Linked DNA regions of Homo sapiens. The protein of the gene in region 3 interacts with the protein of the main gene of each other region in a pairwise test. Each region holds a gene or a part of one and is shown on either strand. Other genes may lie near its edges. The genes, in order: RABGEF1, CCDC50, ARRDC3 and UBE2E2.

The links.
Region 1: the proteins of ARRDC3 (region 3) and RABGEF1 interact in binary tests that used the Homo sapiens proteins (3 or more experiments, as listed by UniProt).
Region 2: the proteins of ARRDC3 (region 3) and CCDC50 interact in binary tests that used the Homo sapiens proteins (3 or more experiments, as listed by UniProt).
Region 4: the proteins of ARRDC3 (region 3) and UBE2E2 interact in binary tests that used the Homo sapiens proteins (3 or more experiments, as listed by UniProt).

Annotation. Positions count from the first base shown.
Region 1 is NC_000007.14:66,792,730-66,799,756, forward strand, and holds part of RABGEF1 (rab5 GDP/GTP exchange factor), read left to right. Parts: intron 1-2,781; coding exon 2,782-2,863; intron 2,864-3,888; exon of another isoform or gene 3,889-4,004; intron 4,005-4,046; coding exon of another isoform or gene 4,047-4,163; intron 4,164-4,644; coding exon 4,645-4,777; intron 4,778-6,593; coding exon 6,594-6,685; intron 6,686-7,027. UniProt on the Homo sapiens protein: Rab effector protein acting as linker between gamma-adaptin, RAB4A or RAB5A. Involved in endocytic membrane fusion and membrane trafficking of recycling endosomes. Stimulates nucleotide exchange on RAB5A. Can act as a ubiquitin ligase.
Region 2 is NC_000003.12:191,325,290-191,332,402, reverse strand, and holds the start of CCDC50 (coiled-coil domain-containing protein 50 long isoform), read right to left. Parts: upstream 3,010-7,113; 5' UTR 2,729-3,009; coding exon 2,680-2,728; intron 1,990-2,679; exon of another isoform or gene 1-1,989.
Region 3 is NC_000005.10:91,373,294-91,380,320, forward strand, and holds part of ARRDC3 (arrestin domain-containing protein 3), read right to left. Parts: intron 6,805-7,027; exon of another isoform or gene 6,155-6,804; intron 5,483-6,154; coding exon 5,401-5,482; intron 3,476-5,400; coding exon 3,328-3,475; intron 2,321-3,327; coding exon 2,218-2,320; intron 1,886-2,217; coding exon 1,629-1,885; intron 984-1,628; coding exon 821-983; intron 584-820; exon of another isoform or gene 546-583; coding exon 391-545; intron 1-390. UniProt on the Homo sapiens protein: Adapter protein that plays a role in regulating cell-surface expression of adrenergic receptors and probably also other G protein-coupled receptors.
Region 4 is NC_000003.12:23,528,301-23,535,327, reverse strand, and holds part of UBE2E2 (ubiquitin-conjugating enzyme E2 E2), read right to left. Parts: intron 2,775-7,027; coding exon 2,627-2,774; intron 1,176-2,626; coding exon of another isoform or gene 1,114-1,175; exon of another isoform or gene 1-1,113.

The DNA.
Region 1 (7,027 bases), on a different chromosome or scaffold from region 3:
TCTTATAAAGGGAGGAATGGTAATAAATGGCCACATTTATTCATTCAACCCATACTGAGCACTAACCCTGTGCCTGGCCTTGTTCTAGGCATGAGGATATGGTGGTGAACAGTGCCCTTGTGGAGCTAACATTTTAGTTGGGGAAATGGACAATAAGCAGATCTGTAACATAGTGTTAAGTCCTACAAGAATGGAAAGCAGGATGAGAGACAGTGGCAGGGGTGAGTTCTTTTACATTATGAAAGCAATACTGTACTGGAGCATAAACTGCAGTAGAAATAGAAAAGGAGTTTTCGGCATTGTATTGTAAAATTACAGGGGTTGTGCTGGGCTGGGGGAGGAGAATATGATCCCTTGACACCAGTAAGACAGGCCTCTCGGGTCTCTAAAAGGAGCTCAGAGAGTTTCTAGTTGGAAGCGAGCACTACAGGTTGAGTATCCCTTATCCGAGAGCCTTGGGACCAGAAGTGTTTCAGATTTTGGGGTTTTCCCAGATTTTGGAATATTTACACATATATAAGATAACTTGGGACTGGGACCCAAGTCCAAACACAGAATTCATTTGTTGAATATATGCCTTACATACATAGCCTGAAGGTAATTTTATACCACATTTTAAGCAGTTTTGTGCATGTAACAGTTTTGGCTGCTTTTTGACTCTAGCCCATCATCACATGAGGCCAGGTGTGGAATTTCCCACTTGTGGTGTCATGTCGACACTGACAAATTTGGGATTTTTGAGCATTTCAGATTTTTTATTTTTGGGTTAGGAATGCTCAAATCTGTAGTAATAATCACAAGAATGAATATAGTTTCTTCTAAGTTAAGTGCTAAAATTTGGTGCAAATGAAAGGTGTAAAACCATGTGTAAACTACCTAAAAAGATTGAATGGATAAGCTTTTGCATAAAATACTTGAAGTAGAAGGATAGATTTGAGCACTGCAGTGTGTGCATGTATATGGGTAACTAGTTGACAGTAACAAGGGCTGCAGTCAAGGTGATCACAAAGTGCCATGAGTGCTTGGCCATTTTTACTGAGGGAATGAGGTGACTGCTCCTGACCCCAAGTGTCCTGCCATCCTTTTAGAGTTAAGCCAGATGGTCAGACTGCTGTGGGCTTCCACAGGATGTATCGGCCCTTGGCGTGTGAGGTCAGTGGCCTGTGTAGATGAAGTCTGTGACAGCCCGTCCTGGGGGTTTGTTCTCGGCCTTATTCATGTTCTTCTACTGTGACATCCTTATGAGAACCGTTGGGAGAAATTTTTGATTTTGGTGTCAGAATTTCACCCGAATAATTTGTTTGCTTTCATCTTTTGAACCCTGAATTACATAACTGTTTTCATCCTAGTGATGGTTGCTAAAAAATTTAGTTAGAGACAGATGTATGGGCTGACTCTTGACTAATTTAGACATCTTCCAGGAAAACATTTCTGTCTTGTCATCTGTGGCTCTGCTTTAGGTCTCTCTCCATGTTTAATTTTTTTTTTTTTTTTTTTTTTTTTACTTATTATTGTTAAAAAAATTTTTTAATTTCTTTCTTTCTCTTTCTTTCCTTTCTCTCCTTTCTCTCCCCTTTCTTTCTTTCCTCTTCTCTTTTCTTTTCTTTCTTGAGATGGGGTCTCACTATGTTGCCCAGGCTGGCCTCAAACTCCTAGGCTCAATCGATCCTCTAGCCTCAACCTCCCAGAGCACTGGGATTACAGTTATTTGTTATTCTTTTTATTTTCTAGTCTCTTGTGCTGAACTGCATTTATCTTTTAAATAGCCTTTAAATATTCTTTGGCAGAAAGTGAGAAACAAATACATATATTACACCTATAAAATCAGTAAAACCAAATAAAAATTATCAAGCCCAATGTTGTAAGGGCCATAGGGAAGTAAGTGCATACACGTGGTTAATGACAGTGTGCACTGAGTTTCTGAGGAGTGTGGCTAGCAATAGATACTTAGTGCTATAACATTGTTTATTCATATTAAGCGGTTAATGCCACTTTTGGAAATGTATGACAGAGAACCGAAAAGAAGATAGTCCTTACAAAATTATTTATACCTACAGTGCACAACAGTGAAAGAGGGGGAGCAACTCAAATGCACAGTGGTAGAGGAGAGTCGAAGAAGTCAGTTAATATAATGCAGTGTTATAAAGCCACCAGAAATGATTCAGTGGATTAGATAAATAGAAATGTACATAAAATATGTAAATTATCAAAACATGCATTAAATCTATTTAAGAATACGTAGATTTAGCAAAAAGAATGAGATGGTCATGGTGAGACCGCTAGGTGGGAAGGGGTCCCCGGAAAAACTCCAGCCAGCCTGCCCACCGGGGTGGAGTTTTGGGAAGTTTGCACCATTTGTAGCAGGGAGGAGCCTGGCCCCTCTTCTTTCTGTGTGGAGCCCAGGATTCTAGCTGCTGGCAGGAAGCACTCTAGCAGGGACTCTGGCCTTGTGAGTGTCTCGGATTCCCCCTTTTCTTCCTTTTCACCTAATAAAACCCTGTCTTACCCACCATTCAAACCGCCTGCGAGCCTAAATTTTTGTGGCTGTGAGACGGACAAGGATCCCGTCTTTAGCTGAACTAAGGAAAAGTCCGGCAACAATGGATATTGGAAATAATATTAATGGATAGGTTTTACTCTCCTGCAGGATTAATATAACCTGTGAGTACTTTTAGGCTTACTACCAGTACAAGGAATGGCTTTTGGAAAGTTCTTAGAATGTAGAGCTGTGCTTCTGCACTTTGTTCAGCTACAAGCAGCCTCTTTGTCTCTCTGTTTCAGGATCTAAGCATTGAAGAACAGTCAGAGTGTGCTCAGGATTTCTACCACAATGTGGCCGAAAGGATGCAAACTCGTGGGAAAGGTAACACTGTTAGCCATTGAGAGATTGCGGGTATTGCACAGGGATGACTGCTCAGTCTCTTAGCAATTTCTTTCTTTCTCTGATGGTCTGGCTGGTTTGTAGACTTCATCCTGTAACCTCATGGACATTCTGGGAACTGGTCTTATACTTAGCAGTGCCTTTGAACTGTACCATGCGTATCTTTCCAGGAGCAATTGGATAATTTATTGAGTAACATTTAATAACTCCATTGGGGCAGGGCTGGAGCTGACGAAAACATCTTAGGGCCTGGCTCAGTAGCTCATGCCTGTAATCCCAGCACTTTGGGAGGCTAAAGCAGGCGGATCACGTTAGGCCAGGAGTTCGAGACCAGCCTGGCCAACATGGTGAAACCCCGCCTCTATTAAAAATACAAAAAGTAGCCGGGTGTTGTGGTGCACCTCTTATCCCAGCTACTCGGGAGGCCGAGGCACAAGAATTGCTTGAACCCGGAAGGCGGAGGTTGCAGTGAGCTGAGACTGTGCCACTGCACTCCAGCCTGGGCAACAGATCGAGACTCTGTCTTCAAAAAAGAGAGAGAGAAAGAGAAAAACTTATTGGAAGGCTTTGCTAAATGAATTTTCCATCTTGGAATCACCATTTTGGTGAGTTATTGTATTAATAGTTTAAAAAAAAAAGAGCTTCAAGTTTTTAGGGATTCTTTATGGATTCAACCTTCACTGATACTAGACTTTAGGATATACTTAGCACATGTGTGTGTCAGAGAAATCTCCATTTGTATACCTCAGAGAGCTCTACGATGTTATGGTAAACCTCAGAAAAATGAAAGGATAAGTTTCATCAGCATTCATCAGTCTTGGGAGTTGCAAATGCCTTTGTAATGTAGGACAGGGAGTGACCTTGCTGAAGTCTCCCCATTTGGCAGGGTGTACACTGTTAGGTCCTGTCAGACAACTTCAGTTAGAACTGAGGTTGCTGTGGAAGGCAGCCCAACAGTTGGAAGAAGATTTTTTTGTTTGTTTGTTTGTTTGTTTTTGTCGAGACAGAATATCACTCTGTCGTCCAAGCTGGAGTACAGTGGTGTGACCTCGGCTCACTGCAACTCTGCCTCCCAGGTTCAAGTGATTCTCCTGTCTCAGCCCCCGAGTGGCTGGGATTACAGGTGCGTGCCACCACACCCAGCTAATTTTTGTATTTTTATTAGAGAGGAGATTTCACCATGTTGGCCAGGCTGGTCTTGAACTCCTGACCTCAGGCGATCCACCTGCCTCAGCCTCCCAAAGTGCTGGGAATACAGGAGTAGAGCCACCGCACCCAGCTGGTAAGTTTTTTTTTTAAGCGTATTTTTAAATATAACATTCTTATACTTTTGTTCTGAGTGTGTTTAATTTATTTCTAGTAAATTAGTTTTTTGCTGTGTAGACAGTGCTATGAAAATATACTCTTGGCCGGGCATTCTGGCTCACACCTATAAACCTAGTACTTTGGGAGGCTGAGGCAGGTAGATTGCTTGAGCCCAGGAGTTCGAGACCAGCCTGGGCAACATGGTAAAACCCCATCTCCACAGAAAAAACCTACAAAAATTATTCAGGCATGGTGGCGTGTGCCTGTGATCCCAGCTACTTGGGAGGCTGAGGTAGGAGAATGGCTCGAGCCCAGGAGGTGGAGGTTTCAGTGAGCCAAGGTCATGCTGCTGCACTCCAACCTGGGCGACAGAGCCAGACTCTTTGTTTGCAAAAAAAAAAAAAAAGAGAGAGAAAAAATATATATATCTTGATCTTTTCTCTGTCTGGTTATTTCAGTGCCTCCAGAAAGAGTCGAGAAGATAATGGATCAGATTGAAAAGTACATCATGACTCGTCTCTATAAATATGTATTCTGTCCAGAAACTACTGATGATGAGAAGAAAGATCTTGCCATTCAAAAGAGAATCAGGTAGTTGCTTATTTTGTTTTGCTTTGTAGTTACTACCTTCTAATGGAAGAACACACTGGGGGGAAAATAATGCACCTGTGTTTCAAACCTTAAGGGAAAGCAATAGCTCATGTTCCTGCTTCCTTAGAGTGGAAGCAGCTCTGTTGTGTAAGAAAGACGAGGAATGTGGTGACCTCACCTATCCATCTCCCTCAAGGCAGCTTTTGGTAAGAGTTGTGTTTGGTGTTTGAGATTGTTTTCAATCCCTGAAATCTCCAAGGAATAGGGGGACTGTGTTCTTGGTCCATTACCATCTCCTCAAGTGGGAAGCTGTGAATATCGGTATCAAGGCAGGGGATGTCGGCTGGGCCCGGTGGCTCATACCTGTAATCCCAGCACTTTGGGAGGATCACTTGAGGCCAGGAGTTCAAGAGTAGCCCAGGCAACGTGGTAAAACCCCGTCTCTACTAAAAATACAAAAATTAGCCAGGCATGGTGGCGCACGCCTGTGATCCCAGCTACTTGGGAGGCTAAGGCACGAGAATGGCTTGAATCCAGGTGGCAGAGGTTGCAGTGAGCTGAGATCATGCTACCACACTCCAGCCTGGGCAACAGAGCAAGACTCCTTCTCAAAAAAATAACAAGTCAGTAGATGTCCTCTTTCCTCATTCCTCCCAGGGGTGTGCATTTTTCAGCATTCCCTAGTCACATCTTTCACTGGCATTGGATTGATGACATTTCCCACAGCACCCAGTCTTCCAGGCTCACTGGGGTGAGCCCCAGCACTGTGTACTCCAGTTGCGGTGGACACTGAGGAAGAGACCACCCAAGTGTGGGAACAGGGCCAAGGCTGAGCTGATGAGGTGTTTTAAGGGGAGAAGGGACTCGGAGTCCCAGGTTCCAGACAAGGGGCTGGTACTTGCTAGATCTGTATTGGAAGTTTCATAGCTGAAGTGAGGAGTTGATACTGGGCAGGCTGAAGATGTGGAGCCCAAGGTCAGGAGCCAGAAGTAACTAGAGGGGCCCTGGACCAAGATGCAGAACAGAAGCAGTAACCAAGCAAGAGGGCAGGCCTGCTGCAGGGTAGTTGGAGTGCAGTTAGGGTGGGACCAGGAAACACACAGTGATTCAGGCATGGTGGTCCTGCCCGTGGCCTCCTATACAAGCTCCAGTGTGCCTCAGAAGTTGAGGGTTGAGGCCAGGTGTGGTGGCTCGCACCTGTAATCCCAGCACTTTGGGAGGCCAAGGCAGGCAGATCACCTGAGGTCAGGAGTTTGAGACCAGCCTGGCCAGCAGGGTGAAACCCTGTCTCGTAAAAGTACAGAAATTAGCTGGGCATGGAGGTGGGCGCCTGTAGTCCCGGCTGCTTGGGAGCCTGAGGCAGGAGAATTGCTTGAACCCAGGATGCAGAGGCTGCAGTGAGCCAAGATTGGCACTCCAGCCTGGGCAAGAGTGAGACTCCATCTCAAAAAAGAAAGAAGTTGAGGACTGAGTGTAAAAGGACATTAACGCAGTAGGCAGCGAGGACAGGCAGCAGCCAATTCTCAAATGGTCACTTTCAGATACTGAGTGCATTTCAGTCTTGGTAGCACTGCGTAATGTCATTTCAGTCAGCAAGATGGCCTTCCATTCTTGTGATAAATGCAGAAGTCTCATTTTAGGATCCTAGCTGCTTCATCACGTCATTAGAGCTCGTAGTACTTGCAGGGGTGATGTGTGTGGGCCTGGGATTGAGTGGTCAGTGATGCCTCAGGCTTTCCCTAAACTGAAGGAGGTGACAAGACAAATGGCCACAGTTTATCCTTGGAGCTCTTGTTTACTGTCTCTCTCTCTTTAGAGCCCTGCGCTGGGTTACGCCTCAGATGCTGTGTGTCCCTGTTAATGAAGACATCCCAGAAGTGTCTGATATGGTGGTGAAGGCGATCACAGGTCAGTGAAACCAAGAGCCTTTTTATTGGGATGTTTTCCCCTTAAAGTTAACATTTTACTGTAATATTCATCTATACATTTGTAAAATGCAGATTGTCGAAGGTACATTGGAATGTAGTAAAAGTGATTTGTAAGATTGTTTTATGAATTTGATGGCATTCAGAAGAGCAGGTTCTCTTTTACCCCTTTATTTTCAGGGATTATGGTCTCGTTTCTTGGGCATTAAACTAAACTAAGGTCAAATGCAGATAGAATAAATTTTTTTTCTTTTTTTTGTACTTCTTTTTTTATTTAGTTTTTATTCAGCTGACTGTTCCATGATAGAATAAATTTCTTAGGATT
Region 2 (7,113 bases), on a different chromosome or scaffold from region 3:
GACTTGATTCTTTTCACCTACATATGAACTCAATCATTTCCCTTTGTCTCCCAGTTTAAGAGATTTACCAAGGTATAAATACTACCATAGGTGTATGTGTGTGTGTTTTTTCAAAAGGTCTGTCCAAATGATGAATATTTTTGACTTCCTTAAAAACTAAGTAAGCAAGCATTAGATTTCAACCTAGGAAAGAAGATTTTTAAATATCCCCTTACCCTAATGTCAGCTGCTACCCACGACCTCTATTGAAATGTTCACGACAAAAGGTCACAGGGTGCCCCATCCCCTCCTAAACAGCAATGGAAACGGGCACACACTCACTGCACTATTCTTCTTAATCTCTATTGGAATCTACCCCATGATACCAAATTGAATATAAATTGTAACTGCATATATATCTATCAAAAGTTTAAATTAAAAAGTAGAGGAGACAGATACAGGGATTTTTTTGAATGGGGTTCAAAAATCTGCATCAGAATATTAAACTAATTACTACTACTAACCCTTCTCAAATGAAGTTGGAGTTTCAATATTACCACAGTCTCAATGTTTGCACATGTTTTACCCTATCAGGGGCACAAGCTTCATTCTCTTTAATTAGGATAAAGACACTGTTAGGGAGTAACTGGGCCATAATTAAGAGTTATATTAGGGAAGGATACACTTTATTAGACTTGAATACTTCTCAGATCAAAAACTTCACCACCATTAGTAGGACATTCCTAGTATAATACATCACTTCCTTTGATGATCTTGGAACTAGAAAAGTCAGATGTTTACAAAGACAGTGATCTCATCGATTCCTGACCACCTTCAAAATTAATATTTAATTGTAACTTAATGAAAGAGCCACACTGAATTTTCTTACCAATTTACCAGATTACATAAAAGAGATTGCCAAACACCGTATTACGCAAAATGAAAGCTAATTTAAATGTATTAGACTCTAGAGTGTGGAAATGGAAAAATCTTGCATTTTTATATGGAAGGTGTTTGTGGAACTCCTTGAGAAATAATATGTTAGAATACATCATTCATGTCTTGGTACGAAATCAGAAGACCTAAGGGTAATATAAATGTATATGAAGAGTTTTATGTTTTTTCACTCACATGAATAGGGGATTGGATAAAATCATAGCACCATATGATTAATACTATACATACCAGGTTTTGTTTGAACTCCAATTCTCATTCTACTCACCATGCACTACACACTGCACAAGGATCACTCTTTCTCTAGAGACAAACCCAACACATACCCACACAAAAAACCCTCATATCCAAAAGTAAAGGATAACCAGACAATCTCTAAGATAAGAACTCTCAAAAGTATGGATCCGCCTTTCCTATCGCTCAGCCTCCTTAGTCTTGACAGCAGAGTGAAAACTGTTTTCTACAGGTGAAAGCCCTAAGTCTTCATCAAAGCCATACCAGGGACGGAAAGGTAGAAAAGTATTAACGCTAAAATCTCACGCCTAAGCTTTAACACCCTTCCGGAACAGTAAGACAGAACTAGGCCCATCAGAAATTCTACATAAAATCAGTGACCACTAGTCACTAGTCTCCTAGTGCTTGAAACTCTGAGAAAGCAATCAAGCAGTCCCTCATTTTCCTGAGATTTTTGGGCTGGCCTGAGCACACACAAGACCAACGGAGTCAAATTAAGTTGGCAATAAAACAAGCGGTTCCAAGAAAGCAAAAACTATTTTCAATTCCACATCTCCAAGACGCCTCAGGCTACAGTATTCAATCGATACAAATGACATTCACAACAGAAGCCGATTTTGCAAAGCCCTTGGAACTTAGGGGTCTGCGTCAGCACTCTGGAACGTCTATGCTTCCTAGGACCAAAGAATAAACAAAGATAACTCAAGGCATAAGGCGATCCAGCACCTAAGATCTCAGCAAAAAAAAGCTAGGTCCTGAGGCAGCTAGTGGAAAAACAAGAGAAGGGAAGTCAAAAGGCTACTTGCTGTCAGCTAAAGCCAGGTCAGTACTAATCTCTACTTTCCTGGACATTGGTACAAAAAGCAATGACAAGGCCATCAGTCCCCTGTTCCCCTCGCTCACTATTGTGTGTGTGTGTGTGTGTGTGTGTGTGTGTGTTTTGTTTGTAAGAAAATGCTTATAGTGGCTTCCCGCCCGCGCAGAACACAGCCAAGACTAAACTTTTAAACCTTGAGGAAGGTGGGAAAGTCAGCCAGCCAGACGCCGGCCTAGGAAAAGTAGGGAGAGAAGGAGGGAAAGAGTCATGTTTCAAAACAAAGGCTCCACACGGAACTGAATGTCAACCCCTCTCCACTTCCCAGCCTTCAAGCCAGCCAGGCTGGGCCTCGATTTTTTAGAAGCGGAGTAAGTCAGATTCACCCGGCTCTCAGCGTCCACTGAGGCTTTGCGATGCACGAGAACACGGGCACAGCCACCTACTTGCTGGGGCTGCTGCTAGCCCCCCCCCCCCCCAACCACCCCCTTGAGAAAAAACGGGCTTGGAACGTCGGAGACTTGCCCAACGTCCCACACTAGAACCTGAATTCAATTCCTTTCACGTCCGGGCAAGGCCAACGCAGGGCGGGCACCGGGCGAGGGCCGCGGGAGCCGAAATGGCAACGCCCCTGACCTGAGAGAACCTCGGGCTGGGAGAGGGGAGGGTCCCGCGCGCTCTCCCTCCGGGGCCCTTACCTTCCTTGACTCCAGGCAGCTTGGACTGGTCGATGCTGACTTCAGCCATACCGGGCCAGGGTCCCGGTTGCCCCTTTAACGCGGGCTTCCCGGTCACCGCCGGCGCCGAGCGGGGCCCCGAGCGCAGCAGCAGCGCCGGACGCGGCGCAAAGTCCGGCCGGCAGGGCTCGCAGGCCGGAGAACGGAGCGGGTCGGGCGGGCAGGGGCTGGTGACCAAAGCAGCGGGAGACGGTCCCCGAGGCACCAAGCTGGCGGCCCAGCTGCCCCGCCGCGGCCACCTGCTCCGCGTCCCCGGCCCCAATCGATACCAAATATCCGGAGCCCGGAAATGGACCGGGGCCGTCCAGTACGGAGGGAGAGAGGAGACAGAAAGGCGGGCGGGCCGGCTGGGGGAGGGGGAGCTGCAGGTCTGTAACCGCAATTGCGAGTGGCTGGCGAGCGAAGATCAGCGCCCGCTGCCGCCTCGCTGTTGTCTCCTTTGTGCTCAGTGACGCGCCGCCTGAGGCTGGGGCCCCGCTGTGCTCCCGCCCCCGGGCCCTGCCCCCCTCCTACGGGAGGGTCGCGTCTTTAGGTGGGGGCCTTGTATCCTAAAGGCCTCAACAAAAAGGCCACACGGGTCACCTAAAACATAGTCTTTCCCGTGAGCGGTGTAGTCAGCATTCTGTGGTCTGGTTCTGGGATTGAGATTAACACAGGATGTTTACTGCATGCTTGCCTCTCTCTCATACACTCTTTTTGCACCCGGAATTAGAGGAGAGATGGTAGATGGCCATAAAAACCCCAAATACAACGTACAGAATGAAGAGCAGCTGATAAAATTCTGGGCCAGTTTGGAGTAGAGTGTGTACACAATCAGCTGGGAGAACTGAGTCATTCATTCATCAAAATCGCATGAATGTGTCTACCAAGTGTGATGTTAGGTACTGTGGGTGATAACGAGGCGTCAGACTTATCTCTGTTATAGCGCTGCACACATTGGATTGTAATTGTGACATTTCTATCTCTCTAAAATAGACAACCTCTCCTGTTTCATCTCCTGGCAACAGAATGCATCCTCCTTTTGGGAAACTGCCTCTTTCCCCACTCCTCAGAGGTGAGCTTCTCTCCCAAACGTGTGCCATGTCTGAACCTCGAGACTACCCCATCACTCTTCCCCCTTCCTCCACCGACATGGGTTCATCGAAGGGTGGCTGGGTGACCAAGACAGGTCAAACAGAATACTTTCCTGGGTACATAAAGAGTTACATATTCTGTTTCTTGTGGAAAAGATCTGCCTCTAGGAGATGATGAGGCCAAACTGAAGACAGAAGCAAAGAGAAGAGAAAGGGAGATGAAGAGGGCATGTTCTGATGTTACCACAGTAGCAAAGCAGGATATCCCCAGAGCAGCTGGCATTTCAGCAACTCCTGGATTCTGGGATCTACAACCCGCAAACTCTCAACTTATCCTCAGTTTTGCTTAAGCTAGTAATAGTTGATTTTCTGTCACTCACAGCTCAGAGTCCCAGTATGAGAGGCCACGTAGGGGAGGTTTTATTTGAACTTGACATTGAAAAGTAGGTGGATTTTAGGCTAGCAAAAATTTAGAAGACTTTCAAGGCCAGAGGGTAGCAAAGTATAGCCCACAGGCCAAATCTACGCCACTGAATTTGAATGACTGTTTTTTATATGTTCAAATAATTACATTTCAAATCACTACATAAATAGGACATAATATTTTCGACCTTGCCTCTTAAGCCTCAAAGTCTAAAATATGCTTTACAGGAAAAGTTTACCCACCCCAGTGCTAGGCAGAGATAACACTCAGCAGGTTAAATGTGGGAATAAGAAGGAAGTGGTATTAGAAAGGTAGATTTATGGGAATTTTTTAATTGTCCTGTAATCTAGTAATTTTTTTTAACTTCCTGTGGTCTAGAGAATATTTATAACAGCAGTATTTTCTGTTTCCCTCCCCAAATCTATCGTTTCTACTTCTCTACCAAGCCGTGCCTTTGGATGCCTACAGATAAATCACTAGGCCCCTTTGACCTGTGGCTTCCTGTTGTGATTGACCAATGGGAAGCACTGGCAGAAAATCAAAAGAAGGGAGGAGAGAAATATCAGAGTATTCTTCTTTCCTTTAACCCAAAATTTTGGCCACAGTCCTGTCCCTCTATGACTACAGGGCCTGTGTAGAGGCCTCTTTTCCATGGCCTCAGCTCTCATGGGTCTCTAATAAAACAATTTGTTTCCAGTGTCCCTTCAGGCCTAGAGTGTGATGGCTTCCCCTAGTTCCTTTTGGCTCACTGCAACTTCTGCCTCCCAGGTTCCAGTGATTCTCGTGCCTCAGCCTCCCGAGTAGCTGGGATTACAGGTGTGCACCACAACGCCTGGCTAATCTTTTGTATTTTTAGTAGAGGCAGGGTTTTGGCATGTTGGCCAGGCTGGTCTGGAACTCCTGGCCTCAAGTGATCCGCCCACCTCGGCCTCCCAAAGTGCTGGGATTACAGGCACGAGCCACCACGCCCGGCCTCCCCTAGTTCTCTTAACCCAGTTAATACCTCTGAAATTGTCTCTTCATTACATTCTTTTCAGTAAAATCACTTACAGTGCACCTCCTGTTTCCTACCTAGACTGTGACTGTTACAGTAAGATATGCCAAAAGTAAGATATGCTTAAAATATGATGTGCTTACAGTAAGATATGCATAAAAATATCCACATTTCTGGCCTAGAGAAGAAATGGAAACATATATAATAGCCACAACTATTGTTTAGAGAATCGGCTGCTTTCAGCAGAAAAAGTAATGAAAACCAGGAGCCCTTTTCAGGTACTAGAGCAGATGACCTGGAAATCCACCCCATAGTTGGGCTTTCCTTCTCCTACTCCACACCTGTTCTGTATAGGTCCCCAAGCTGAGCAAACAATTAGAGCTCAGCATTACAGAGTAGGCAACTTCTAGCAAAGGACTGACAGTAACACGGGGAAGAGCTAGTATCTTTTGAGTATTTATAGGGAATGAACATATGGTGAATTTCTGTAACAAGTTTACATCTTTTGGTGTCCTGAAATGTCCATTTTGCAATAAAAGAGAAAGCATAAGGCTTCTCAGGATGGATACAGATCCCTAATTTGGGGCAGATGCCAAACAAGTAATTCAGCATCAAATCACAACTTGAATGCCATAGAGAGAAATAAGGATTTTATTTATAAGGCAATATGGAGGCATCAATTGATTTTTTTTTCTAGGTGGATATTACATGATACATTTTCTACTTTTATAAAGTGAATTTGGTAACAATAAAATGCTTGGATTGGAGTAGGGAGACTTTGGTCATAAGAAATGAAAACTCCAGTTTGAAAACTACCAAATTCCACAAAAGCATCCCCCAGTTAGAGCTTACCTTACTAGAAGGTAAGCTCTGTGAGGGCAGGGGTTTATCTGTTTGATTCCCTAATATCCGCGTATCTAGAAAAGTGCTTGGCACATAATAGGCACTCAATAAATATTTGTTGCATAAATAAATAAATATAGTTATCCAATTTTATTATCAGTAAGAATCACAAATTAAAAGTAAGTTAAAAAAACAATATAGGCAAATGAATAAATTACACTGGACCTTGGCAAAACAGGAAAGGGGACCCACAGAACTATACTTCTGGAAAGAATTATCTGTCTCCTTGGCCCCCAGTGCTTCCTAGCTCATCAGCATAATATACCTAAGAGAACAGTTCCAAAAATGAGGATGCAATTAGAACTGTTATTCACTTTCACCAAGAAGACTGTATGAATATTCTAAGGTTGCCATAACAAAATACCACAGACTGAATGGCTTAAATAACAGAAATTATTATATATGTTTTTCACAGTTCTGGAGGCTAGAAGTCCAAGAGCAAGGTGTCAGAACATTTGGTTTCTTCTGAAATCCCTCTTTTTAGTTTGCAGATTGGATTAGGGCTAACCCAAATGTCTTCCTTAAAGACCCTGTCTGCAGTGCAGTCCCTCTGAATTACTGGAGGCTAGGGCTTCAACATGTGAATCTTAGGGACAGATAATTCAGCCCATAGTAGAGACTATTAGGACAATAATCCAACCGTACAGTTTAGGCCTCTTTACTCCAGGCCTTGAAGCATTTTTGTCTGGACTCTCATAACATATGTAAGTTCCCCAACCCTATTCATGCTCTCAACTTTCCTCAGTTGCTCAAGTCCCCTCACCCTATGGAATTCACTATCAGTTACTCACAAAATTCCCCATATCTCCTTTGTAACTATTCCCTTTCCCTTCTTTTCCTACTGGAACTCAGGGGTCACCTGGGGACATTGCTCTTCCAAGAGCCCTCTAAATTAGAGGCTGTTTCTTCTAACATACCCTAGACCCCATTGGACCTGGAGGTGCCATGGTTTTTATCTTATTGCCTTTTTTAGAACATATGTCTTTCCTATTTTTAAATAT
Region 3 (7,027 bases):
ATATGCAATTGGAAAAGCATCATGAATAAGATAAATTCTACTATTTAATCAGTGTTTGCAAAATGCTAGTTCTTCCTATTGATGCTTGGATATACAAAATTCTTCCTTCAAAAAATGTGTCTCAAGATAAAAGTTTAAGAGAAAAAAAAATTAGTAATTCAACATGAGGTTAGATCATTATCTTAATTCCCTAATAAGTGAACAGTCCTACCTCTGCATCAAACTTAGTAAATATTGATGAACCTAATATTAACTTTTAATCTGTTGTTTTAAATTATTTGTTCTGTTAACATGATAATCAAGATCTAATAACATTAAGAAAAAAAAATGCCTGCAATGCTATTTCCCAAGATAGCCAGTTCATTTCATACTTAAGGAGTAGGTACTTACCTCTGAATAAAGAGGTGGAGGCAAGAATCGAAACTCCTGGATATATGCAAACAGTGGTCCTTGAAGGGCTCTCTCAAAGTCATCACAAGCACTCACTGGTGCAAGATTGTTCCGCCTTTGTTCCTCTGTTACCACTTCTGCATAGCTGGGTGGTGCTGAAGGAAAAAGATACACGCAATTCGAACAGCATGTTCTTATGCATGTCAAAATACACAGAATAGTAGGTATTAAAAAGCAACGTCAAGGTAAAATAATTATTGTTTGGTGATCAAAACTATGAAGACATATAATCAAAACTGAATATTAGGGGCACATCTACTTTCTTTAGGAAAAGATTATGTTCATCTAGGGTCATAAAATATCAGAGGCAAAATAATTTTCTTGATAATAGTAGTAAGAGATTAAGCTTAGACGTGTATTATCAAATTACCTTCAGGTCTTTCAGGAAGTGATAAACTGAGCCAGTTCATATTCATGCTACACTGACTGCTTACACTTGAGGTTCTGCTACCAAATGGATGTAGAGGAATGGTACCGATGACAAGTGGCAAATTAAGAAATAAATCCATAGCTCCAGGAATATCCACATATACCTAAACATTGCAAAGAAATATTAAGTTTAGAATGCCAAGTATGATTTCCTTTTCAAAAACTCATAACCAATTTTAATGTTATTTGAAACCCCCATTTACTTCATTTTTAAACTTACATACATGAAAAGTTTCTCTTTTATGTATAATTCTGTATAGTACATTTACATATAAGGTATAATTGTAAGTCAAACTATATAAAGAGTTATGTATTTTATATGTCACTATATATGGAATTTAAAAAAATCAAATCCTGGATGTAAGACAAAACTATGTCATAACTTTAAGACTTAAAAACAAAACAAAAAAAAACACCAAAAACCTCTTGGGCCAGGCACTGTGGCTCATGCCTATAATTCCAACATTTTGGGAGGCCATGGTGGATGGATCACTTGAGCCCAGGAGTTCAAGACCAACCTGGGCGACATGGTCAAACTCCATCACTACAAAAAATACAAAAATTATCCAGGCATGGCTATAGGCACACCTGTAGTCCCAACTACTTGGGAGCTGAGGTGGGAGGATCACTGGAGCCCAGAAAGCAGAGGCTGTAGCGGAGCTGAGACTGTGCCACTGCATTCCAGCCTGGGTGACAGGTGTTTCAAAAAAGAAAAAAGAAAGGAAAAAACCTCTTAAATGTGTACATACCATTAGTGAATATTCCACGCGGATTATACTACAGTCGAGGATAGAGGGAGAAACTGGTGGAATTTTCAGCAACTTGCCATTCCACGTCTCTGTCTTTCCAGATGATAAGGATTCCCCACGCAAGTTAGCCACAAGCTGTTTTACTTCCTTCATTTTCCCTTTGGCATAGAAGGCCTGTGTTTGGTAAATGGCTGCCTTTGGCACCACCATTCGGGAAGAGCAGTTCTCAATCTCAGCAAATATCTGAATTGATTCACCTAGAGAGGGAAAAATATATACATATCTACTGTTAGAAAAAAACAACAAAAGAAGTCAAGATTCTTAAAGCTAAAGTAAGAAAGTGCAACTAACATACATGAAAAGATGTCCCAGGAACTGCAAATAACTTGAGTCATAGAAATGAACTAATCAGTAGCTATTTGAAAAAGGAAACTACATTCTACTTTGTGAAAAAAACAAATGGATAAGCACAATTTGTTATTTCACAAAAGAATACTATATTATGTTTATATTTAGTAGTCATATTATAAATTTAAACACAAAAGCTAAGTGAAGAAAAGTTTTTTGTGGGAATCTACCTCTTACATACCTGGGGTATAGCCCTTCCTTTCAATTTTGGCACTTAAGGATATTGGGCCTGAGGTACAGAACCAGCAACAGAGTGTCTTTTCTTTTGTGCCTGCTTGGGGTGACTGTAAGAAAAAAATTAAGAGAAAAAGGTCAGTGTATGGATTGGTACAATCAATACCAGAATATTTTAAAATATAACCCTAAATTTATGGAAAATTAAAAATTACAACTGGTTTTGCTTTTTTTTTGTATCCAGACATACTTCTTATTTTTTAACTAACCGATGGTTTTGAATTATACCATTACTTTTATTTTCATATAAATTTCCATTCAATTAGAAAAAAAAGGTAAAGGGTTTACAGCCTATCCCATAAACATAGTTTTTTAGCTCACACTATTTACAAATATAGTAATCAAAAACCAACCAAATAAAAAAAACCCTTTCCACATTCCATTTAAACTGCCTTAAAAAGGCAGCAAAGAAAGCAATCTGATTATAATTCCAAATGTTAACATCTTTCTCTGAGACTATTAAAAAATCAATATGTAAAAAAGGAAAATGCCCATTTCTTATGTGCTTTAAAGATGTTACCATTTGTTTAAATCAAATAAAGTTTTAAGTCAAATTTGAATTATTTTCAGACAAATGCAATTAAAAATAGATTTCTTTAAAAAAGGAGTTTTTTAATGAAACTAATGATTCCCCATTATTTGACAACTATCCCTCTATTGGAATAACAAAGTATAGTACAAATTTTAGATTATGATATTGTCAAGTAAGTGATATTGTATTATAATAAAAGATACTACTGCTCTTCTTCCACTCAAATCATCCAAGGACCAGATCTGTTTTTTGTTATGGCTGTCATACTCTGAGTAAGAGATACTTCATATCATATACTGGTCTTAGTTTTATATTTACTTAAAGGTATACTACAATGTCAAAAATATGAGCATATTTTTCATTAATTTCAGTGTTCTTGACTGTATTTAAGAAAATGTATATTTATGAAATTTTAAAAGAAAACCAGTATTTTTAAATTATGACAACTGCATAGTTTAGGTGATTGATTATTCTTTAATATTTATATGCCAAAAACAAAGAATAAATAATTCAGTCAATTCTTACCAGTAATGAAGGAGTGTTGATATCTATATGCTCAAAGACTGTAAATTCCTTCTTTAATTTTACTGGTAGTAGCCAAGGCCTGTGCAATTCGGCTTTCACCCAATAGCGCACACTGCCATGTCGGCCTTCGAATGAGGTAGCGAGTGGTCTGTGCAGAATATAAAGGTCAATATATTAATTTTATACCTCTTTCTAACAATTACACAGTAGGTCAGAATAGAAGTGTTAATATATTGTATTGTTTATGTTCCAATGAGGTATCAAACATATAATTTAAAAAATTTCCAAAGGGATAAGTCACTGGGGAAAAAACTTCCTATTTCCAACTAAGAATAAACAATAAATATCTTTAAAATTTTGCTTTAAAAAGCCAGAAGAATACAATCCATTTAAACTAAGAGGAGGCTACTTTTAATGATGGTGGCAAAATCATGAAAGTTTAATGGGCATTTTTTGAAAAGGCCAAGAATTCAAACACAAAGTTGAGAATGGTTTAACTATTTCTACTGATAAATTCTAGACACTGGTTAAACATTCAGACCAAATTCCCTATAGTACTCCACTTCTCATTAGCCGGGAATTATCATCTTTTAATAGCAACTAACTAAGGTCTAGAAAAGGCCTGGAATAGTCATTATAGTTTCAAAAATTTCACATTTCCTAAGTTTACTGAAAAACTACTTTTGTATCTCTCAGTTTACTCATGTTCTAATTCTTGTTTGGCTGTTCTCTAACTTTACGGGCTTCAAAAGAAAAAGATATAGTCCTCTTGATCTATGTCAAGAGAATAAAAAAAAATTTTTTTTAACTCTGTCAGATTTTACTTGTGGAAGGTTTTATTTTAGCAAGTTCAGTATCTTTTTCATAATTTCATTAGTAAAATACTCAATGTTCAGTTATTTACAAGAGTGCTAGCTTAGATTAGCATAAGAAACACTGGTGTTTTCATAATTTTTTTTTTTTTTTGCATTTTAGACTCCCACATTAACTTGTATAGCAGAGAAATAAAATCTTAAACTGTATGCTAATAGTTATCCAAAATTTATGTTAAATGACTTTGGTTTATGGATAGAACTTTAACATTAAATGACGCTGAAAATACTCAGGCCCCATATTGGCCTTATTCTATCAACAGACTTTAATATTTTTCTCAGAAATTAGATGAGGGCATTATATTCCAAATAAAATTCTCAAATAATACAGTAAATAGAATTTTCTAAAAAATACCATTTATGACTTCTCTCTCTATATATAACATCTCAAGCACTAGAATTAACAAATGCAGAATTAATGTACATTTGTCACCTGACAAAATCTTATGTAATCTGTTTATTCTCCAGAATAATCACCACAAGTGCCATTTTGCAGGTTTTAATATTTGTTAAAAGGCATTTTTTTTTAAAAAGTTTGTATCATCTCTTCCAACAATCTGTCATTACTTTAAGAATATACCACTTTCCTTTTTCCTTTCTTACTAGATTCCAAGTTTTATATTAATGTATCCTTGATGCATGTTTCCTTTTAAGCCTGGGTCATATCTCTTGTGTGACCTTCCCAATAGTTCTTTGTACAGAAGCTATTAAGTTCATATCAGAAGAAAAACATTTCTAAAGTTAGGATATTCCTAATTATTTTTATTTTCGAAACTTACTGCTATTGGTTAGTATTAGCAGAAAAAGTAGAATATAGAATTTTTTATAAATTGAAGCTACTAAGACTTGATAGGGTCTATCTTTTCTCATAATGATAATTGATAATAAACTAAGTATAAAGTGGTTATTATTCGACTAGCAACTTCCAATTCACTCATGTTAAAGGAAACCCTATTCCTATTTTAAAAACCTCATAAACTTTAGGAAAGAATACTGAAAATTGAGTATGCTTTCTATAATTTTGCCACGCTAGATTAAAAAATAGCTTCTTATGTTTAATATATTGTTTTCCTCTAGCAAGTTTCAGTAATGAAAAGGGTTTTTTTTTCAACTAAAAATGTTTAAATTTAGAATACTTAATTTTAAAATAATGCTCTGATCATAAGTATCTATAAAAATGCCTATTATTTATAATACTTACGTCTGTGGAAGCTCGAAGCTGAATGCATATTCATGCCTTCCTGAATGAATAGTGTGGAAGCCTTCTTCGGAATTATCATCATCTAAAACAAACATAAAAAGAAAACAAAGAATTTATTATTCAACATTTACATACTCCGCAGGGTGGCATAACTTTAAAGATGCTTACATAACAATTAAGACCACAAAACAAGCTTTGGAGTCTGAGAGATCTGAGTTCTAATTCTAACTTCATCATTTCCTCTGGACAAAATAAAAATCCTGTCGTCAGCTGCCTTATCTGTAAAATGGGGATAATGAATACTCACACCCCACAGGCTTTTTATTTTTTCTAATGGAAAATGACCCAAACTGCAAAGCATCTGTTTATAAAATAGTATATATACTCAAAAGGCTCGGGTCTCACATCATGGTAAGACAATGCTATCCTTTGTCTCCAACGGTTTGCTTAAATTTATCACATTAAGACTATAATGTATCAAAGAAAAACTGTTCATGCAACCCTCTTAAAATATGTCAGTTTATAGGGAATAATAATACCAGATGTGAATAGAATAGATACTCCAAAACCACTAGAAAACCTTGTCAAATAGACGGAGTAAAAAAAAAAAAAAAAAAAGCCACACATTGATTTTAATGTCAGATTTATAACTAAAAATAATTATTTATTGAACTAAAAATAATTATTTATTGATCTAAAATGATCACAACACTCAGTTGGTCCTAGCAACGACTAAAACTTGCATAAACTATACCTTAGATAATTACAAAGAACCGCATTTAGGTGGTGTCGGCTTATAAGGAAACAATATTTTCCAACATCCTTGAAAAAAATGAAGTCTAACTATTAATAGTTTCCAGTTTCTATAAAAAAGGGATGACCTTTCATTTTACAACCAATTTTTTTGGTGAAATTATTTTTTTTCAAGTGGCATGAAAATAAATATAATCGAAAATATGGGAGGGGGTTCTAGATCATTAAAGTGCCTATTTAGCGTTTTAAATAATTACAGAAATATCTTTTAAAGTTTTCTTGGTGTAGAAACCTTTACGATTAGCCCCCAGAGTAGAAAAAACTGGCACATTATTTAACTTTCCTTCAGCAAAGTATTGGATATACACAAAAAACGTGATGCCTCCCTGATATTAAACGAGAAAAAGGGGGAAAAAAGCATGTATACGTCGATACTTTCATTTAAAAATCATGGTGATTCGCTTATGTCTCCATACAATTTTCCTCGTCCCCTGTGCAAATTCCCCTGAACGGATTTCAGAACCAAAAACTAGCTGATGAGCTGGGGGCCATTTAAATTCGCTCCCCTCGAAGGCGCCCGAAGTTCGCCTTCCTTTCCCTTTCTTCCCTCTTCGCTCCCTTTTTGTGCCAGCTCAGCAGTCTCATTGAAGCGAGCGGCGGCGGCCGCGCCGTGGTAAACAAGTGCCGGGCTGTCAATCAAGAACTAGACCGGAGCAGGAGAGGACCGGCCTAAACCGGCGCGAGCAGATCCCAGCCGGCCTGCCCGCGCGCCGCCGCCGCCGCCGCTGCCGCCCGCGCGCCCCGCTATACATACGGCATACGTCGCGCGGCGCTCGCGCCCGTGCCCGCGCAACCTAGCCTGCTGGCCGGGGGG
Region 4 (7,027 bases), on a different chromosome or scaffold from region 3:
ATTGTGGGCCCATTTGGTGTCCCAAATACTCTGGGTAACAATATCAACAACACATTACCATTTATAAATGGCTTTCACATATACCATCTCATTTTAACCTCAGAGGAATCCAGTGATTTAGGCAGGGCTGGTACTAATCCCAATTTTATATCAAAAACTAAGCCTGTGGAAAGTTAAGTGACCCATCCAATGTGATATGACTAATAAACAATTAAACTGGTTTTCAAATCTACATCTGCTGTCTACAAATATCATGCTGATAAGGATGGGTAGTCATACCCTAAAGAACATCTGTGTTGGAATGGACCAAAAATTCTTTAAAGAGACAAGTGCAAATTACAAAAAGAGTATGAAAAAGATTTAGAAAATAAGTTTATGTATGGATAAGAGTGAGAAAGTATTTTTTAAGTGAGTTAAATTTGTATCATTATACAAGGCCTATTTTTGAGGTGACAGCATTTCCGGGTTAAAATAGCTCTACAGATTCAGTGTAGGAAAATCTTATTTATTCCTATTCTATCAAACTTGTTTTTGTGATAATTTGAAGATAGATTTAAGATAAACTTCAATCTAACCTAATCTTTCCTACCTCTGTAGGTAAAAAAACCTACAGAGATTGAAAGTGTACCAGATAACAGTGTGAAATAAGTCCATTAAGCAAAAGAATGGACATTTGACTACTTTAAAATAAACAACTCTATTTAAGATTCTAGAAGTGTCAACATTCATAAAAACCAATTAGGAAACTTTATTTTTATGTGTTAAAAAGTGTGATAAACTAAATGTTAGCATGTATTTTACAAATTCTCTTCTAGTCTCATATGAGGCAGGCTGTCTTTGGTTTTATGGAACATTATTTTTAGGCTTGTTCTTACTATCAATAGCATTATTTCAAAATCTATTTCTTTTACTTATGTGGTTCTGCTTTAGTTAGGAGTGATTTTTAAGTTTTTGCAGAATGCATTTGTAATTTTCTGAAACGGAGCAAAAAAAAAAAACTAGTTCACTGAACAGAAGTCTTTTTGATTGCTGAGAGAAGGCTTTGGTGGAATGAATCTATTCCTTTAAGCAGGAATATCTGTAGAGAGAACAGGCTGTCATATACAGGCTTATTCAGGGTAACAGATTCCATTTCAGCTGACTTGGAGGCAAAGCAGGCCAGGCTTCGAAATCACCTCAAAAAAAAAAAAAAAAAAAAAGCCTTCTTGCAACATTACCTCCAAATGAGGTTATACAAGGTTATACACAGTCACAGACAAATGGGATTAAAATGGGAACAACAGGACTGAAAGAACAAAATTAACTTTAAATTAGTATAACATTATTGGACTTTACTGTCTGTAGTAAAGTATGAATTAATTCAAAAAATATTTTATAATGATCCTGCACAATTTTATTTTTTGGGCAGGCTGGGTACAGTGGCTCATGCCTGTAATCCCAGCACTTTGGGGGGCCAAAGCGGGCGGATCACAAGGTCAGGAGTTCGAGACCTGGCTGGCCAACACGGTGAAACCCCGTCTCTACTAAAAGTACAAAAATAAGCTGGGCTTGGCGGCACACGGCTGTAATCCCAGCTACTTGGGGGGCTAAGATAGGAGAATCGCTTGAATCCAGGAGGCGGAGGTTGCGGGAGCCAAGATCGTGCCACTGCACTCCAGCCTGGGTGACACAGTGAGACTCAGTTTCAAAAAAAAAAAAAAAAAAAAAATACTAATTTGCTACTTTAAAAAAGATTTTACTGCTGAAAAATAAAGAAATATAAAAGTAGAAAGACTGTTATTTCTTGATGTTTTATAAAACAGCCAGGATCCTAAGCAACCCCACTGATACTCGTCATTTCCATTTGTGTAAAATTTCATGTATCCAGTGAACAGAGTTTACTCATGATTGTAGAAGAGGGAATCTCATGCAATATTTAAGCTATTAATTACTCATAAAATAATTCTCCCACTGAGAACATCAATGAAAACCCTATAGCTATCTTTGGATTTTTGTATTTTCTAAAATAAACCCAATTTGTAAAGACATGGCCCAGGAATTAAGAATTTTCAGTGGTAAGCACACCAGCAAGCCATAAAGGCCTGGCTATAGACTTTTTCGTTTTCTTGGGAGGTGTATTTCCTTGTTTACTTTTGGGGTATTTCCTAGAACAGACCATTCAGGACCGTTATAATAGCTTGTCAGGATGCACAGTTACTAGGATGCCAAAAAGGTCACGTCTGCATGGTGCTGCCTGGTTGTTATCAGATTTTAATAGCCCACATTCCTCAAATTAACATCTTCTAGTAGGCATCTAATTAAAGATTAAGCTATTCAACTTGAATTTTTATTATTATTTGGCAGGATAACTTAATTCATTCTTTAAACGTACTTTCCCATCTAAAATGATTTTTCATTATTTTTTTTACCACACTATACTTTTTCCTTTTTGGCAAATGATAGGTCTTAAAAACACTAATGAGAAGACCCAATTTAAAAAGAAAATAGTTACATACTATGAAAATTTAACAATAATAGTAGTAGAAGCAGTGGTGGTAGTGGTAGTAGCAGTAGTAAACAAGTTACTAAGGGTCTGACATTTAAATCTTGACAAGCTCCAATTCATACTAGATTTAAAGTCTCTTACCAGGGTTGCAATCTGTAAGAAGTGAGCAGATGGAGAGGAGAACTTTAGAAATAGTTAAAGCCGGACTCCAGTTGTCCTTTAAGATGTCCAGACAGATCACACCTTGGCTGTTAATATTACAGTGATAGATTCTTGTTCGGAAGGTAACCTACAAGAAAATGTAAAGTTATATTTTGTTAGACAAAGTGTTTATTAACAGTATCTATAGACAATTTTTGTCTAATAAAATTGCCTATTTTATCAGACAAAATAGCCCAGGCTATTGGTTAACATACACTTGATTTTTTTCTTGGGCACATGAGATTAATCAACAGAGATCATCATTTTAGAATTTGTCATTTTGGGCACAGAGAAATAAACATCAACAGCAAAACCATGACATTCTGCTTCTTATAAAGAGTCCTGTTATTTAACAAATGTTTTAGGGACTGAATTTACTTTTGATACAACTACAGGAATGTTCATGGGGAGAAACTGACTCTGACTTCTAAAAAATTTCAAAGAAAACTTTTGTTAGATTCCAGTTATTTTAAGGATTTTGTACATTTATAATATTCAAACACCAAAAAGCATGAGAGTACTAATACAAAGAAAATAAATATTATTCTATAACAGTTTTTTTTTCTTTTTTTTTTTTTTTGAGATAGAGTTTCGCTCTGTTGCCCAGGCTGGAGTGCAGTGGCGTGATCTTTGCTCACTGCAACCTCCACCTCCCGGGTTCAAGCGATTGTCCTGCCTCAGCCTCCCAAGTAGCTGGGATTAGAGGTGCCCGCCACCACACCCAGCTAATTTTTGTATTTTTAGTAGAGACAGGGTTTTGCCATGTTGGCCAGGCTGGTCTTGAACTCCTGACCTCAAGTCATCCGCCTGCCTTGGCCTCCCAAAGTGCTAGGATTACAGGTGTAAGCCAACATACCCGGCCTATAACACAGTTTTAAAACATAAACTAAGGCATTTATATAAATAACATGCCCAGTTCATAGAACTATATTAGTATAATTATAGTAGTTACAATTTACTATTTTAGTTATATTACTAGTTACAATTAGCTGTAATTTAGAAACCTTTTCCTTCTTAAATTTTATTTTTAAAACGTAATATTAGTGCATCCTACCTTTGCCCTGTGATAGCTAGATCACCACTGTATGCTGCTTACATGTAATTGTGAAACATGACCATATCATTTGTAAAACACTTCAACTGAAAATAATTAAGTGCAAATCAGTTTTATAACTACGAAAATAATTAAGTGCAAATCAGTTTTATAACTACTAAAACTGTTTAATAAAAGTGTTATGTAAACGGCAATAAGATGTGAATATTATTGATTAATATTATGTTCATAAATGTTCTTAAATTTTAAGTTGAAATATACAAAAATCTCAGGGTTCTAAAGACAGTCTTTTGGTACCCTATGTTCAAAATAGCTCTGAACCAAGAAAAACACACATGCAGATCTCTGCAGGTGCTGCCACTCCACCAGGGCATCCAGCATCCAGTCAAACACCAGATTTATGTAATTTACATGATGCGAAGTCTCAGAAAGGGCAAATCTAGAGACTTATGTGGTTGTCGAACAAGAGACATCATTCTCAGGTTAAATTAGTACTTCTAATGAGAACTGCCCTTCTAGCATCATGCCAGACCAGATAATCCATGACACCTACATACACATCTTAAATGCCTAGAAATGTTGAAGAAAATATAACCAACATTCTTTAAAATGCATAGCAAAATCTGTAAGGGGAATTCCCAGAGCCCAGAATTAAAAACCAAAAATTATAGTAAGCGCAACAAGCTGAGACTGCACCTGCCATGGGTGGGGTTTTGGGAAGAGGGAAGGGAGTAAAAGATGGTACTCAGTCTTAATAAAGTGGAGGTTTGGGTTTTGATGCCCTCATGGAAAAAGAAGATGAAATCTTAGGCCTGTATGTTGCAAGAATTTAGAATTGAGCGCCCTTATATCAATTAGGAAACTCGAATGGCTAGTCTTTCAGTAAATGCATGGACTTGAAAAGATATGCCTTATGACAGAGATAGCAAAGAAACTTACCAAAGAAAGCGTGGGCTCTAGAATGAGAAGAGAAATGTTTTTCCTGAGAATTCTAAATCCTAGATACATATACTGTGTAAACACTAGCTAACAAAAACAGCTTAAATGACTATATTATCAGATCAAAATATGTTTAAGGGAAAAAGCATTGTTAGAAACAAAGAACGTTACTGATAAAATAAACAACTCATCAAGAAAACAGTAACAATTCTGAATGTGCTGTATCTAACAATATAGCCAAAAGTATACAAAGTAAAAATGTGCAAAATTATAAGGAGAAAATGACATAGCTATAATCAAAGAGGGACATTTTCACCACAGTAACTGATAGGTCAACCAGACTAAAGATTAGTAAGGATATTGGAGATCTGAACAATTGGATAAACAAAATCAAGGGAGTGAATGAAGACACAATCCTACACTTAATGATTAAGGAACATTTAAGAAACATTTGTAAAAACTGATCCCATGCTAAGCCACAAAAGAAGCTTTACATATTTCAAAGAATTGACATTATTAAGACCATAATGTAAAGTCAGAATCTACATATAAAAGATCCCCCTATCATATGTTTGGAAACTGAAAAACTCATTTTCAAATAATTCTTGGATCAAAGAAAAAAATCAGTTACTATTATTGCTGAATGACAATGAAAATATTGGGTTGCCAATATCAAAATTTTGTGACTCAGCTAAAACAGTTGTAAAAGAGAAATCTACAGTTTCAAACACATACATTAGGAAGGAAGACAGATATTTAATGAGTTAAGTGTCCAACTCAGGAAGGTAGTAAAAGAACAACAGAGTAAACTCCATGAAAGAAGAAATAAAGACACTAGCCTAAGTTAATGAAACAGAGACTATCTCGTGATATTAAAATTTCTCTGGAGAAGGCAGAGTGCCTATCCCTTTAAGTGCTAAATGAAAAGATAAAATATTTTTACGATCCCAATTTAACCAATGAGTGGCTTACATAATATTGATAATTAACCCTCAAAACAACTCAATAGGGAAAATAATATTATTGGCAACCACTTGAAAAATGATGAAACTAAGGCAAAGGGAGGTTAAAGAACTGGCTCAAGATCCCACAAGTGGTAAGTGGAAGCCAGAATTTGAACACAATTGTGCTGATCCAAAAGCCTACGGTTTGTCTCTCAGCATCAATGCCTCTGTTCTTTCGTTAAAAATTTATAATTCTGGGATAATTGTAGATTCATGTACAGTTGTAAGAAATAAAGAGATCCCATGTATTTTTCACTCAATTTTCCCCAATGAAAACATCCTGTATAACTACAGTATACTGCAGGAAACTGACATTAATACAGTCCACTGACCTTTTCCAGTTTCATTTTTATGTGCACTCATGCATATTAAGTATATTTAGTTCTATGTAATTTTATCACATGTATAGATTTGTGTGAATACCACCAGTCAACACACAAACAACTCTATCACAAACATTCTTCATGGTACCCTGCGATAGCCATAGTTGCCTTCTCCCTTTACTTCAATTCCTGGCAACTACAACTCTGTCCTCATCTCCACAACTTTGTCATTTCAAGAACGCTATATAAATGGAATCGTATAGTAGGTAACCAATTGAAATTGGTTCTTTTCACTCTGCACAATTCCCTTAAGATCCATCCAAGCTGTTGCACGTGTCAATAATTTGTTCCTTTCTTACTGATGAGTAGTATTCCACGGCATAGATGTGGTAGAATAGGCAGATAAACAGACATGAGGAGGAGAAGGGCTGCCCTGAGAAAAGGAGTCTGGAAAATCTCATGCCCCAGGGATCACCCCAAACAGGCGTGCTAGATATGAACAGACAGGAGGGGAAATACCTAGGCAGAAAGGAATCCCCCTTAAGACCCCAGTGATTGCTCACTCTGCCAGTTAACCTGCCAGAATGTAGCTAGATGCATGCTAAAGGGAAGAGGGCAAAGGAGAAAATTCCTAAGAGATACGCAGAAGCAATTTGTGTCCAACATCGGGTTCACGCGTGCACACCAATAGTAAGGGAGGGTCCCACAACCTTGGGGCGGGAACTAGGTGAGGGAAAAGGCAGGGACTTAAGGCAGATGCAGAAAACTAAACAAAGTAAAAAGGCGGAGACTTAAGAAAGAGGCAGGAACTTCAAGAAAAAATCTGAAATCATAAAAACCCACCACTCTCGGGGTGCTGCTGGCTCACTCTCTTTCAGCAGCTCGCCCTGCCTCATCTTTTCAGAGTGTACTGTCTCTCTAGATAAACTCCCTACTCTGTATTTTCCTTCAATGAATTCTCTTTCTCTGGCTAAACCAGTAGCTTGGCAGAATTCTTTCTCCAAATAAGACTAAGAACCAA